Linked DNA regions of Homo sapiens: region 1 is linked to region 2. The links come from fine-mapping of genetic effects on gene expression. Tissue or cell type: prefrontal cortex. Region 2 holds a variant in brackets; the other region holds the start of a gene. All regions are shown on one strand. Distances are from middle to middle.

The links. PIP is the estimated chance that this variant, and not a neighbour inherited with it, causes the effect.
Region 1: CSTPP1 starts here. The variant in region 2 is fine-mapped to the expression of CSTPP1 in prefrontal cortex (CommonMind, PIP 0.95).

Annotation. Positions count from the first base shown.
Region 1 is chr11:46,933,218-46,941,102 of GRCh38, reverse strand. It overlaps CSTPP1 (centriolar satellite-associated tubulin polyglutamylase complex regulator 1), which reads right to left and starts at 4,342. Exons shown (of 9, transcript NM_024113.5): 1 at 4,252-4,342. The coding sequence starts at 4,297. RefSeq lists an enhancer at 4,275-4,484.
Region 2 is chr11:47,156,985-47,164,869 of GRCh38, reverse strand. It overlaps CSTPP1 (centriolar satellite-associated tubulin polyglutamylase complex regulator 1), which reads right to left. Exons shown (of 9, transcript NM_024113.5): 6 at 7,652-7,847; 7 at 6,948-7,057; 8 at 3,680-3,743; 9 at 2,623-3,406. The coding sequence ends at 3,232. ARFGAP2 (ARF GTPase activating protein 2) reads left to right here. Exons shown (of 16, transcript NM_032389.6): 16 at 1-569. It overlaps LOC124902672 (a long non-coding RNA gene), which reads left to right and starts at 7,844. Exons shown (of 2, transcript XR_007062668.1): 1 at 7,844-7,885. RefSeq lists silencers at 3,601-3,767, 3,518-3,812. The variant C/T (reference allele first, on the strand shown) is at 3,495.

The DNA of each region.
Region 1 (7,885 bases), 220 kb after region 2:
GATTCAATTATTAGGTGATTGGTTGGGCTTCACAAACATTGAAGCTTTTTCAACCAACCTGAGACTCTGATTCTGTTTGTAGATTCATTCTCAACACTGCCACTGAATTGGCCTTCCTGAAAACGCCATTTATGAAGAGACCACCAACTTCTATTCACCAAGGCACCAATACACCAAATCTGCCAAGCCTTTGAGACATAAAATTCAAACAGCAAACACCCAAGGAACTGAACAATGAACTAGCCTTTTCAAATATTTCATATATTCATTGAGTACTGGGTAATAAAATACATAAAATCTTTGGAAAAAAGTCTAGGCATTGCTTGACATTGATACTGTTATTCATTAGATACAAAATTGTCTGTGATATCCCCTTTTAGCTGATTAATGGATGTGGTCACTGTCTTAAGCTCTCTCTCTATATATATGTCTATATATATGTTCATGTATATATGTGTATATATATAGCTTTCAAAGACCAATCAGCCCTTAAACTTGGTAAAAAGGCACTCAACTTCATTTAAAAATGCATATTAAATCTACTCAGACTATCTGTCACTTAGATTGAAAAAAATCCAAGTTTGATGTATTTTGTTGTCAGCACAATGGGGAAACAGGCATTCTCTTTCATTGCTGGTGGCAAAATGGTACAACACCTATTAAGGGCAATCTGACAATATCTATAAGTACTTCAATGCATATGCCCTTAATCCACCAATTCCACTTTGTGGAACTTATTCTTGCAGATACACTTGCAAAGGAACAAAACTGCAGGTTATTCATTGCAGCATTCTTAGTAACAGCAAAAGGCTAAAAACAACTTGTTTACCAGTGCGGGACTGGTTAAATAAATTATTTAAATACTATATAGCTAAAAATGAATTTCATGAAGAACGAAGAAGCTCCCTACTGACTGAGAAATTACTTCGAGGCCAGGCGCAGTGGCTCACGCCTATAATCCCAGGACTTTGGGAAGCCAAGGTGGGCAGATCGCTTGAGCTCAGGAAGTTCAAAAGCAGCCTGGGCAACATGGAGAAACCCTATCTCTACCCAAAATACAAAAACTTAGCCAGGTGTGGTGGCTCGTGCCTGCAGTTCCAGCTACTTGAGAGGCTGGGGCAGGAGAATGGCTTGAACCCAGGAAGTGGAGGTTGCAGTGAGCCGAGATGGTGCCACTGCACTCCAGCCTGGGTGACAGAGTGAGACTCTGTCTCAAGAAAGAAAGAAAAGAAAAAACAAAAGAAACGGAAATTACTTCAAGATGTATTAAATGAAAAAGTATGCACTGTATACTCCTTTATGTATATAATAAACTCTGGAAAGATACACAGGAAAACAATAATAGTGGTTACTTTTGGGAGGCTGAGGATGGATGGAAACTGGGCAGATGGAGGCAAAGGGGTAGGCTTTTCACTAAAAACATCTACCTATCTATCTATCTATCTATCTATCTATCTATCTATCTATCTATGCATTTTAGAGGCAGGGTCTCACTCTATCATCCAGTCTGGTCTTGAACTCCTGACCTCAAGCAATCCTCCTACGTCAGCCTCCCAAAGTATTGGGATTACAGGCATGAGCCACCATGCCAGGCCTAAAAAATACTTTGAATCAAGTTTCCATATTACCAACCTTAAAAAATATTTTAAAATTAATTTTTAAAATAAGTTAAACAAAATGTAAACCAGAATTGTTTTTCATTTAAAAAGATGTTGGCTGGGCGCGGTGGCTCACGCCTGTAATCCAAGCAGTTTGGGAGGCCGAGGTGGGTGGATCACCTGAGGTCAGGAGTTTGAGACCAGCCTGACCAACATGGAGAAACCCATCTCTACTAAAAATACAAAATTAGCCAGGCGTGGTGGCGCATGCCTGTAATCCCAGGTACTAGGGAGGCTGAGGCAGGAGAATCACTTGAACCCAGGAGGCGGAGGTTGGGGTGAGCCCAGATCGCATCATTGCACTCCAGCCTAGGCAACAAGAGTGAAACTCCATCTCAAAAAAAAAAAAAAAAAAAAAAAAAGATGTAAGCCAGGTGCAGTGACTCACACCTGTAATCTCAGTACTTTGGAAGGCCACAGTAAGAGGCTTGCTTGAGCCCTGGAGTTCAAGACCAACCTGGACAACATAGTGAGACTCTTTCTCTACAAAAAATTAAAAAATTAACCAGGGATGGTGGCATGTGCCTGTAGTCCCAGCTACTTGGAAGGCTGAGGTAGCAGGATCACTTGAGCCCGGAGGTTGAGGCTGCAGTGAGCCGTGATAGTGCCACTGCACTCCAGCCTGAGTGACAGTGCCAGACATTGTCTCAAAAAAAAAAAAAAAGAAGAAGAAAAAAAAAAAAGATGTGCATGGTACATCCATACAATGGAATATTATTCAGAAATAAAAAGAAATGAGTTATCATGCCACAGAAAGACATGGAGGAAACTTAAATGCTTACTGCTAAGTTAAAGAAGCCCATCTGAAAAATTTACACACTGTATGACTCCAACTACATGATATTCTGGAAAAGGCAAAACTTTAGAGACCATAAGATCAGTGGTTGGCAAGGGCTGCAGGGGGAGGGAGAAGGATCAATAGGTGGAGCACAGGGGATTTTTCAGGACAGTGAAACTATTCTGTATGATAATGGAATGGTGAATACATGACATGCATTTATCAAAACCCACAGAACTGAACAACACAAAGAACCCTAATGTAAACTATGGACTTTAGTTAATAATATGTATCTATAATAATATATCTATATAATAATAATAATATATAATATATTATTATATATTATAAATATATATGTTTATCCATTGTAACAAATGTACCACACTAATGCAAGATGTAAATAATAGCGGAAACTGTGAGTGAGGGAGACCCAAGGTATATGGGAACTCGCCGTACTATCTGCTCAATTTTCTGTAAACTTAAAACTTCTCGCCATGTGCAGTGGCTCACGCCTGTAATCCCAACACTTTGGGAGGCCGAGGTGGGCGGATCACCTGAGGTCAGGAGTTTGAGACCAGCCTGACCAACATGGTGAAACCCCGTCTCTACTAAAAATATAAAATTAACCTGGCGTGGTGGCGCATGCCTGTAATCTCAACTACTCGGGAGGCTGAGGCAGGAGAATCGCTTGAATCCGGGAGGCAGAGGTTGCAGTGTACTCCAGCCTGGGCAACAGGAGAGAAACTCTGTCTCAAAAAACAAAACAAAACAAAACAAAACGTCTTTAAAAAAATAAAAGTCTATGAATTATTTAAAATGTGTATTGTGGCCGGGCGCGGTGGCTCACGCCTGTAATCCAAGCACTTTTGGAGGCTGAGGCGGGCAGATCACGAGGTCAGGAGATCGAGACCATCCTGGTTAACACGGTGAAACCCCGTCTCTATTAAGTATACAAAAAAGTAGCCGGGCGAGGTGGCGGGCGCCTGTAGTCCCAGCTACCCGGGAGGCGGAGCTTGCAGTGAGCCAAGATCGCGCCACTGCACTCCAGCCCGGGCGACAGAGCTAGACTCCGTCTCAAAAATAAAATAAAATAAAATGTGTATTGTGTGCATATGTGTGTGTGTGTACATATCTATGCGTGTGTGTGCCTTTTTTCATTCATTAAATGCCTTATACACTAAAGATGCTCAACAAAGTACTACATATACAGTCTTAGCTCAAGAGCCAAGTCAATATCTCAAGTTCTGTTGGAGTGGGCAAATCCGGTTCTGATCCTAGCGCTACCATTTTCTAGCTGTGTGGCCTAACTTAACGCAAGTTACCTCTTCAGCCCCAGTTTCTCCACCTGCAAAACTGGAAGAAAACACGGTAATTCCTCCTAGGGCTGTTGAGAAATTCAAATGAAGAATGATGCATGAAAAATGCTTAGCACAGTGCCTAATGAAAAAGAAAAGCTCGAAATGTTCGCTGACTGATTTGGCACTTGAGGTTCCAAGGTTATTCTTACTCCACTACCAGCATATCAATAATACCCCAACAGGGCCCCAAATCCTCAACGCCAACCTGACCCATTTGAACACAATCCACATTGCCTGAGTTCCAGCCCCTACACTTCAAACATTCTTTACTTCCCAGGTGCTTTTTTCCTTCCTGCTCGGCCTTACAGGCTCAGGCCCTGGAACCCCCGCCTCTCCGCCCCTCCCCATACCACCCGGACCCGATCCCACTCAGACCCCGCCCCCGCCTCCTCCCAGACCCTGGCCTAATTCGTCTGCACGTCTTTCCCTCCCCAAAGTTAAAGGGGGTTCCTACCCAGATACTCGTAGTCCGGTAGGGCTAGGCGCTCCGGACTCAGCATCCTTTGACCGGGGTGGCTTCAAAGCTCCAGCTCTCCGGCTTCCGGAACCCAGGTTGCCGTCTCTCTCCGTTGCCATGGCACCCACGCGGCGGAAGGGGGACGGGAGCTGGAGGAGGTGTCACACAAACAGTCTCCGTGTCGCAAAGTGGAGCTGGCCACTCAAGTTCCGGGGGCAGTCGCTTCACGATGGTCCAGGTTTCTTTGGACTCCCATTCTTGAAGACTTGGTTTTAGAGGAATCTGAGATGAAGAATTCTTTTGAATCCGTTATGTTTCCCAGTGTCGAAGAATTACTGTCAGCCGCCCATATACGCAGTTTCTGAATTTCATAACTATCCCTGCTTTTATACACTGTTTATCCTAACTCAGTAATAGCCCCCGCCCTTTGGCCCCCATAAACACTTAGTATCCCATTAGCTATTTTTATCTCTTTGGTATTTACTATCTTAAATTGCTACAAAGTGCTTACGTATGCATATACCCTGGATGCTTCTAGAGGTCAGAGATGTGTCTTTTCTGCCTATGACGGCTGGACACACAAAAGGTACTCATTAAGTCCTCTGAACTAATTGCCATTTCTTCTCAATTCTCACTCAGTCGCCCAGGCTGGAGTGCAGTAGCGTGATCTCGGTTCATTGCAACCAGCGCCTCCCGGGTTCAAGCGATTCTCCTGCCTCAGCCTCCCAAGTAGCTGGGATTACAGGCGCCCGCCACTCCGCCTGGCTAATTTTTTGTGTTTTTAGTAGAGATGGGGTTTCACCATGTTGGCGAGGCTGGTCTGCAAACTCTTGACCTCAGGTGATCCGCCGACCTCAGGTGATCCGCCTGCCTCAGGCCTCCCAAAGTGCTGGGATTACAGGCGTGAGCCACCGCGCCCAGGCTCAATTCCTTTTTATCTTTGGTTCTTCTTTCTATTCCTAGCCCTTACTATTTGGTACCTTTCCCAGGTGTCTTTCCTTTTTCCTACCAAGACATTGCTCTTCTTGAGGGAGAGGGGCTGCAGAAACGAGGACACCAGTTAGATTTTTTTCCCTATATGCCCAATTGCTCACTTCTTCTTTAAGAGAATATTCACTGGTTTTCAAGTTCCTAAATATTTCTTTTCGCCCCTCTCCACTCCTGACAACAGGTCAGAGATCTGTAGCACTAGACACAGTTCAGACATAGCAGAAAAAGCCACTCTGTCCTCACTTTTTTAGTGCCCTCCCCCTCCAACAAGGTGAGGTTTGTGAAAAAGAGACAAAGAAAACAAAATCAAGCTATCAAAGGAATGACTGGGAAACCAGTAGACCACCTACACTGGGAGGAAAAGGAAAGAGGAGGTTCTTCTCTTTGTGTTCCGAGTGGCCTATTCTTAGCGTCCTCCAGTAAGGAGCCTCAAACCTCCTAATTCTTGCTTTCCCTTAAAATTGTATATGTGTCTCAATTCTAGGCTCCTGTGAGTCACTCTAAGTTTGGATGTGGTGAGGTTAAAAGGACAGAGCCAAAGTAGGAGCAGGGCTTAGTGTCTTGAGGCAAATTTACTAATTTGGTATTTGGTGTGAAGTCCAGCAAATCTGATTTTTTTTTAATTGCCTTCTTATCTGCTTCCCCCATCTAGCTTGAGGTTATGGGAGGTTCATATGTTCCATAACTGTGGCTTTTTACTATTTTATTAATAAGGTAATACCATAGTAATTATTAAGTGATAATTTTACTTTATTCCCAAGCAACTTGTAGCTATTTGCAAATAATCTTATTTGTCCTCATAAAAACTTTCTGCTGAGGTGGGCGGATCACGAGTTCAGGAGTTCGAGACCAGCCTGGCCAATATGGAGAAACCCCATCTCTACTAAAAATACAAAAATTAGCCAGGCGTGGTGGCGCACGCCTGTAATCCCAGCTACTCAGGAGGCTGAGGCAGAAGAATCACTTGAACCGGGGAGGCAGAAGTTGCAGTGAGCCAAGATCGCACCACTGCACTCCAGCCTGGGCGACACAGCGAGACTCCGTCTCAAAAAAAAAAAAAAAAAAAAAAAAAAAACCTTTCTAAGGCACTTTTCCATTTTCTAACTAGGGAAACTGAGGCACAAGTCACAACAGTGACTTGTCTAGTGACTTGTCTAGCATCATGCAGCCACATAGTGGTAGAGCTACAACTGGATCTCAGCTATCCCAACATCCAGGCCAGTGGTCTGACCACTAAACCACACAGTCTCTTTTTTTAGGGTTTGTTGACCTGGCTTTTATTTATTTATTTTTCCTTTTGCTCTGCCCTGCTAGCAACTGGAAGCTCCCAGATAGAAGAAGATAATGTTGAGTCCAGGCTGAACATTTGACATCGTCTTATTTGTGGAGCATTATCCTGGGACTTGGCGGGTGCTGGCTGCTGGGGTCTGTGTGGTGGAGCTGGGAACCAGCCCCAAGAATATAGCTTTGTTTGGGCATTAACCCATTTGTGGTTATAATAATGATAAGTTTCAGCACCAGTGGCGCCCGACTGTTAATGACTCAAAGAAGGCTAAATAAGAACAAGATGTCATCTCTGGAGCAATTTGTAGGTTTTTCCTACAGTTCCATCCCTTCCATAAAAATCCGAAGGACCCCTGTATTCAAAGTCAGTCTTCCACTCTGAATGTCCTGAACAGTCTATTGAGGAGGAGGACTTAGAAAAGTAGGAGGTTGCTAGAGTAAGGCTTCACAAAAATTTGAAGTTTCACCGAAATAACAGGTGGCCTTACTGGTAGTGGAATTACTGACTGTTTACATTTTTCTTCTTTATATTTTTCTATAGTCTTAAACTTTCTATAATAGGCATGTATTATAACCTGAAAACAAATAATAAATGAGTGGCCTGAAAATCTTTAAAATTTTTTAAGCAGATGTGATGACCTTCCAGACAGTGTTTGTTTTTCCCAAAAAGAAGCCACTGCTAGATTTCTCTTCTGTCACAGATTACATGATAATAGATTTTTGAAACACATTGGTTATTGGTGAAATTTTTCAATGAAACATACACTACATCAGTCTTAAGAAGAGTAGAAATATATAAGAGTTGTTAAAATTAAGTGTATTTTTTGTGACTTGAATGTGAAAGAAAGAAAAAAAATGTCAGCCTTTGATTTAAATTGACTTTTCAGGTTCTTAACTTATCATAATATATTTCTTAAAAATTTACCAAAAAAAAAAATCACCGAGGTAAATCGGTAAGTCAGAAGACAACTCCATAATCCTGAAAAGAGGCAAGTGATAAGATATTGATGATAAATAGAGCATCGGATGTTAAAGGCAGTACTACAGCATGACGACTGTAAACATCAAATTCAGAACAATAAGAAAAAAACAAGAGAGAGAATATATTGAGATGGTTTTTGTTTTTGTTTGTTTGTTTTTTGAGACAGAGGCTCACTCCATCATCCAGAAAGGAGTGGAATGGTGCAATCTCTGCTTACTGCAACCTCTGTGTCCCAGGTTCAAGCCATTCTCCTGCCTCAGCCTCCCGAGTAGTTGGGACTACAGGTGTGTGCCACCACACCCGGCTAATTTTTGTATTTTCAGTAGAGACAGGGTTTCGCCATGTTGACCAGGCTGGTCTCGAACCCCTGACTTC
Region 2 (7,885 bases):
AGACCGGAGACCCTTGGGTTCTCCCGTCTCACCACCCCTTTCTACAGTAAGCACTTGGAAGATTGTTTCAGGGTGTCTCAGGGTCCCTCTGTACCATCTGCTGTGGAATGCAGGACCCTCTGTGACATTCTTTATCCCTTCTTCCCCGGGTTGGTGGCCATGGAGGGTCTTGTCTGCTGTGATTCGACTCTGGATGCTGTGAGCTTGATGCTGGCCAGGGAAGCAGAGGATGTGAGAGGCAGAGGCAGGCTCCTGGGGCTGAGCTCCTTCCTCTGCATCATTCTGGGCTTGGCCTGGACAGCACCCGCCAGTGAGAGCTGTGGGCCTCACCCTCTGGCAGCTGAGCCAAGCACTGTCATTCTTGGTGCCATCTTCCCCTGCCGCACCGGCAGTCTCAGCCCAGCCCCCACCTTTGGGTTGTAGGTTGGGCTCCCAAGCAACACAGACCACTCTTCCCCTTGCCCCTCCCCCAGAGGGACTTGACTTTCTTTCTGGACTGTTTGTATTGAAACAAAGTGGTGTCAAAATAAAGCCCCTGCAGGGCCTGGCTCCCTGTTGGTCTGAGTGAAGCAGTGTCCTCTGGATCCTGCCTCCCTGCCCAGTGCCGGCCCCTGGCCTCACTCTCTGGGCTCCCACCGGTAATGGTAGGGCGTCGGTACCGAAGCTGAGGACACTCTCTCCAGGGCCTCCTGCTTCTCTCTTCTCTGAAAGCCAAAGGCCCCTGGCTCCTTGGCTCTGTGCTGCCGTGAGGTCCGGTGCAGCTTCGACCTCACCACCCTGTGGCACGCAGAGGAAAGAGCTGGCATTAGTTGGCCCTTTAACTCGCTGGCTGAGGGCGAGCGAGCAACCTCAGCAGTCCTGCCCCTTGTCACGGCAGTAGGCTTGACTGGGGATGGGTTTCAGTGGAGTTTAAGAAATATTTAACGCCGGGTACAGTGGCTCATGGCTGTCATCCCAGCACTTTGGGAGGCTGAGGCGGGTGGATCACTTGAGGCTAGGAGTTTGAAACCAGCCTGGCCAACATGGTGAGACCCCATTTCTACTAAAAATACAAAATTAGCGGGGTGGGGGCGGTGTGGTGCATGCCTGTAATCCTAGCTACTCAGGAGGCTGAAGCAGAAGTCACTTGAACCCGGGAGGCAGAGGTTGCAGTGAGACTAGATCGCGCCACTGCACCCCAGCTTGGGTGATAAAGTGAGACCCTGTCTCAAAAAAGAAAAAATTACATATATATACATACACACACATACTCTTAGACGTTAATGGGACCCTTTAAATTTAGGGAAGAAAAGGTGTGTGTTTGTGTGTAAATCCTTAGCTTGGCCACCCCTTTCTCTTGGGGGCTTCTGAAACATCTCTGTGCCACCTTAGGAGTCCTCACGGTAGTTACAGACCACTGGTCTGGGAAGTGGATGATTAGAAAGGATGGGCAGAGGGAGCCAGGGGGCTGTAAGCCAGGGATTTGCAGAGTGTAGGTTTGGGACTCATTCAGCTTTGGGATCATCTGGAATTTCTGGACTCCATCCCAAGTTGATAGAGTTAGACTCTCTGGAGCTTGGTAATTTGCATCGTCAGTAGGCTTTCCTGTGATTCTGAGGACACCAGGATTTGAGAACCATGTCTCTTATGGGCTGTGCATCATTGTGGGCCTACAGAGCTCATCACGCAGCCTGAGCTTTTTTTTTTTTTTTTTTTTAAGATGGTCTCATTCTGTCAGTCACTCAGACGGGAGTGCAGTGGCACGATCATGGCTCACTGCAGCCTCAACCTCCTGGGTTCAAGTGATCTACCTCGGGTCTCCCAAGTAGCTGGGACTACAGGTGCAAGCTACCATGCCTGGCTAAGGTTATTTTGTAGAGATAGGGTCCTACTATGTTTCCCAGGGTGGTCCTGAACTCCTGGGCTCAAGCAGTTGGCCCACCTTGGCCTCCCAAAGTGCTGGGATTACAGGCAATGAGCCACTGCATCCTGGAGCAGCTTCGGGGCTGGAATGCCTAGTCTTGGCCTCAGCTCTGCAGGGGTTTGGGAGGCAGTTCCTGTAATGATCCGTTCTGGGTAGGGATGAGCCCAAGGAAATGTGTATGCCTAGTAGTGGTGACATCCACCTTCAGAGGAGGCAGTCCTGTTCTGCTTGGGCTTCTGGGTGGGTTTTGCTTTCTGGGGGACCCCGCCCCTTCAGCCCTCAATCCAAAGAAGTTGAAGACACTCGTCCTTACCTGCCTCCAGTCTTGGCTGGGATGTGTCTGCCCCAGGCTGTGTCTGTCTGTCTTTCACAGCTGCATCCCACTGTTCTAACCCCAAGCAGGTGCTTGGCAAATGTTGACTGAAACCCTGGCTGGAAGGCTGTGCAGTATTAACCCTTTATGGCCACGGTCTTTAAAGTTATGGGAACCTGGCCTTGAACCCTCTGAACCTGTTTCCTGAAGGCCGTTCCAGCTGTGAGCACTTTTCCTCTGGAAGGTTGCTCTTGTGCGAAGCTAGGCCCCTCTGCTCGTTGTCTGAGGCAGGTCCCCAGGTCTGAGTGGGCCACTGGCCTACCTCCTAGTCCTACCAGAAAAGCACCGAAAACCCAAACTCCCCCTCTCCCTTCTCCCCTCAGCCTAGGAGCTTTAGACTCACCAGTTACCAGACATGAGGGACTTTTTATTCGTTTCACATGTTTGTTTAGCTATTAGACACAAAGGGGTCAAGACTTGAAGCAGTTTTTGCAAGTGAAATCATCTTCTGGCCCACCCTTCATATTACCAAGGCTACTGGCTGTTCTCCAACAGGCCACAGCGGTTATGTCCTCCTGGTACTTGCGTCGCAGGTGTCACCCTTGATGGTGCAAGGCCCTGCGTGGCTATTCGGGTTCTCCCCCTTAATGGAGTTGCTGTGAGGAGATGAACCTTATTGGGGGACCCGCAGAGGCTGGCTCAGAAGAGACTGCTCTTAAGAGGTTAGGAGGACTAACAGGCTACGGCGTGACAAGGTGGCCTCAGCACAGTCTGTCAGCTTGGGGCCTAAGTGAAGTTCACAGGCTGATAGGGCCAGGGAGAGCAGGCCATTCACCTTCCGGGGCCACTGGCTGGGCTGATCATCAGAGCCCCTCTGGCTGGTCTTGGGGCTGTTATTCACCTTGTCAGCAGCAGAGGGCAGCACAGCAAGGTGCTGGAGAGGAGGCTGGGTGGGCACACCAAGGGCTGGGTGGGAGCAGGTACAGGGCGCTGTGGGCAGGACCCTTTGGACTCCTCAAGTCTCCGACTCGTCTGTCTCTTCAGTGGAGCCATCACTCTCTCCATCCACTTTTCGGGAATGATGGAGAGGTCTCCAGGGAGAGCCAACCCGGGGAGGGGTCCGGGAAGGCAGGCAACTGGCCTCTGGACTGGCTGTGACCGAGTTGACCAGGCCTGGGACCTGGGCCAGCCTGAAGAAGGGAAGAAGCCTGGAGGGCAGCGAGAGGCCTCCTGTACAGAGAGCAGGGCCTCCATGCCCACTCTTAACACTAGGGTAAA[C/T]CCCTGGGCTGCAGCCCCCAAAGGACTCAGAGGGAGGGACACCTCAGGCCTCCACTGGCCCCCAGACCCTTCCCTGGCAGATGTGGGATGTTACAGACAAGTGGTGTTGGCCCCAGATGGGGCACAGCCGTGTCCGACCCGTCTGGCCCCCACAAGGGGGCAGTATCCTCCCACTTGACACTTACAGCCGTTCCAGCTCTTCATCCATTGCTGGGTCGTGCATCAGATCCCCCTTGTCAGGCAAAGCTCCTAGGAGATCATTGGGGGCACAGTAGTTAATCTGAGGGCCCTTCAGCCAGGCAACAGATTCCTCCATGCCCCTCACCTTCACGGCTGCCTGTTCTGCTGACCCTGCGAGGGCCGATCTAAAGATCTGAGGACTGCTAGAGGGGCCAAGAACAGTCACGGAGCAGGAAGGTGCTCGCTGTTGCTTGATACATTTATTGAATCCCACTGCCTACTTTCCCTGCCTGGGGCAGACACCACAGCCAAGGAGTGTGGTGATCCCCTTCCAACACCAGGTGGTGGTTGTGACCTGGTGCTGGGAGTTGAGTTCCTTCTTGAGGCCTCAGGTACTGGGCTGAAAAGGATATGGTCCAGGCTAAGCCCAAAGGTCAGACATTACCTAATTTTGTGTCCCTAAATCAGGATGACCCCACTTTGGAGACAGATGGTTAAAAAAAAAATGCTGCCTCTGCTTCTCCAAGGAGGATCCCAGGGGCAAGAGGAGAAGGCTGGGTCAGGGCCAGAATTAACCCGGCACAGGCAGATTTCCCCTTTTTCCAAATCTTTTTCAGATGATGCCTCCTGGCCCCTCTTGCCCTAAGTTAGTGGTTTTCAAAGTACATCTCATAGAACCCTCTCATTTGTGGGGTGCCCTGGGGACTAAGGGAACAGGGCTGACCTCCGTGACGCGTCAACCAGTGTATCTCCGGATTTCTATTTCATACGCTGGAGATGCAGGTGAGGCCTGAGACCACATGCTTCTTTCTGTCTCCCATTCCATCCAACCACCCAATGTTAGTGTGCAGTAAAAGTGGTTGAATGAGAGTGACTTTTTTTTTTTTTTTTTTTTTGAGACAGAGTTTTGCTTTGTCACCCAGGCTGGAGTGCAGTGATCATGGCTCACTGCAGCCTCGACCTCCCATGCCCAAGCGATCTTCCCACCTCAGCCTCCTGCGTAGCTGAGACCAATGGTACATGCCACCACACCCAGCTAATTTTTGTTTTTTTTCTAAAGAGACGGGGTTCTCCCTATATTGCCCAGGCTGGTCATTAACTCCTGGGCTCAAGCAATCCTCTTGCTTTAGCCTCCCCAAATGCTGGGATTACAGGTGGAGCCACCATGTCTGGCTATTAGTGTTTATTTATTTGATGGAGTTTCGCTCTTGTTGTCCAGGCTGAAATGCAATGATGCGATCTTGGCTCACTGCAACCTCCGCCTCCCTGGTTCAAGTGATTCTTCTGTCTCAGCCTCCCCAGTAGCAGGAATTACAGGCATGTGCCACCACAACTGGCTAATTTTGTATTTTCAGTAGAGACGGGGTTTCTCCATGTTGGCCAGGCTGGTCTCGAACTCCTGACCTCAGGTGATCCGCCGCCTCGGCCTCCCAAAGTGTTGGGATTACAGGCGTGAGCCACCACACCCAGCCAGTGTCCTTTTTAAAGGCCCTTAGAAAAGGGGGATGAGGTTACTTCAGGCTGTGACCCAGTTGCTAATTGGCTTCTCCTTCCTAGTGGCTGCTACTGGTGGGAAGAAAGAGTGGTCATAACGAGGAGTATGAAAGAACACCAGGGCAGATCCCACCCGCCTCCCCCTTACTCTTGATTCCTGACTCTCGCCTGTTTTTGTTTTTTTTTTCTTTTTTGAGACTGTCTTGCTCTGTCGCACAGGCTGGCGTGCAATGGCGTGATCTCGGCTCACCGCAACCTCCGCCTTCTGGGCTCAACCGATTCTCATGCCTCAGCCTCCCGAGTAGCTGGGATTACAGGTGCGGGCCACTATACCCAGCTAATTTTTGTATTTTCAGTAGTGATGGGGTTTCACCATGTTGGTCAGGCTGGTCTTGAACTCCTGACCTTAGGTGATCCACCTGCCTCAGCCTCCCAAAGTGCTGGGATTACAGGCGTGAGGCACCACGCCTGGCCTGTCAATTGCCTCCTTTCTAGTCTTAGTCCAGTGGGTAACCTTGGCTACCAACTTCAGTTGAGGGCTCCCCAGACCTGTGCATGCCCCAAGCACTGACTCAGAATAACCAGGCTGTGGGTGGCATGCAGTTCAGCCTGCTGGGGTTTGTGCTTGTGTATCCCAGAGCATCCCTGGCTAACTGTATATTGTGTAAGATAAAAAATATAAAGCATCCAGCACAGTACTTAGCCTGCTGTGGTTGGCATTTAGTGAATGTTAACTTTCCTTCCCTTAATCCCATTCCCTCAACTGGCAAAAGGAAGGGGGATGCTGTGTGTCTTTTCCTTGAGACTCAGGCACCTGGGATCCCAAGCACAGCAGGAGGATCTCTCGAGACACAAAAAAGAACTCCTTGCTGGGCGTAGTGGCTCACAACTGTAATCCCAGTACTTTGGGAGAGCAAGGTGAGGGGATCCCTTGAGCCCAGGAGTTTGAAACCAGCCTGGGCAACATGGTGAAACCCAGTCTGTACAAAAAACACAAAAATTTTCCAGGATGGTGGCGCATGCCTGTAGTCCCAGCTACTAGGGAGGCTGAGGTGAGAGCATCACTTGAGCCCGGGAGGTCGAGGCTGCAGTGAGCTGAGATTGTACACAGCACTCCAGCCTGGGCAACAGAGCGAGACTCTGTCCCAAAATAAAACAAAAAACAAAAAACCTTAAACTGTAGTAGAATGGAGGCTTACTGGCTCTTCTCTTAGGAGAGCAGTGGCTGTGGGAGGAGGAACAGTGGGGTGGGTGGAGAAGGCTCAGTGAAAAAAAACAGCAGGCAGGAAAAACTGGGCCACTGCAGACTTCCCCTACTTTTGTTTTTCTCCCTTTCAGATTAATCAGATTTTTTTTTTCAGCTTGGAAAAAAGGTCTCCGCAGACACACCTGTGCCTTGTTTATAAATGGGATTCAGGTCTCTTTGATATATAATCTCTAGCGTCACTGAGTAAATAGTCCTGTGTCTGCCCGACCTGCAGGCTGCTCCCCAAAGCAGAGCTGGGGTTCTCTGAGGAGGGGCTGGGCGCTTCTGCTATGGGGAGGTGGTTTCATGTTGGGGCAGGGCTGCAGGCAGGGAGGGCTGTCCCCTACCATGGGAATGTGTAAGAGCCATGTTTTGTCGCCATATTCCTGCTCCCTGGGATTGAGTCCGGCCCTGGGAAGTCAAGGCAGAGATGGTGATGCCCCTTCCCCTCTGGAGCCGTGTTGCTAACAGAGGCCAGCTGCTCCCTGTGTTGTGCGGCAGGAGAGGCTGACGGCTGCTTAGCTCTGACTTACCGAGGGCTTGGTTGATTCCACGGTGCTTTGAGAGAGCCATGAGGAATCCATAGAAGGTCAGTCTCTGAACATTGCTGAGGGCCTCTTTGACAAGTGCTGGGGGTGGGCAGCTAAGAAGGAGAGATGCCACATTCAGAGCCTAGCCAGCCTCAGGGCCACCTCTGCATCCATACTTTCAGGTTCATGAGGATACCCACAGCCAAGCCAGGGACCTGCCTTGGGAGCCCCAAGGCCCTGGGGGATCAGGCCTTCACTATGGTCAGGAGGGGCTGGCATGTTCACTAACTGGTGCTTTCACCGGGGTGGGGAGTGGGGGTGGGAAATGGCTACGGGAAACCAAACCTGTTGCTCAGTCCCTAAGGGTACTTGTGCCACACAGGACAGCTTACCCCTCTCTTTGTGTAGAAAAGTTTTATACAAGGAGTACTCTTTCCTTCTCTCTAAAATGTTAAGGCCAGTCTGTCACCCAGTAAATTGGTCAACTACAGTGGTCTTGCCTGAGTGAAAGCAGTCCTTTTGAAGTGAGCTAATTGAGAGCCTTTCAGTCAACAACTGGTTTGGGGGCAAATGGCACTGTTACATTATGACCAGCAAGGGCCCTAGAATGCCTGGGCCGCGCAGAACATCCTGCGGAGCTCTGTTCCGCAGCCAGCAGTCCGACCCCCTGGGGCTGGGGGGCTGGGGGCTGCATGCCCGTTCCTCACCTGTACTTGTGCCGATCACACAGGTTTTCCAGACACTGGTAGAACAGCGACGCCTCCACGCCCTCCAGCGTGCCGGCCCCGCCCAAGGCAGGTCGTTGGCGGTGCTGCCCACTGGACGACGTCGGCACAATCACTGTGTTGGGGTTCTTGCCTGACAGCAGGTCCTCATAGATGGCAGCCACACTGTCCAGGAATTCTGGAACCGTGGGGGTGGGGGTGTGGGTGTGGACGGCT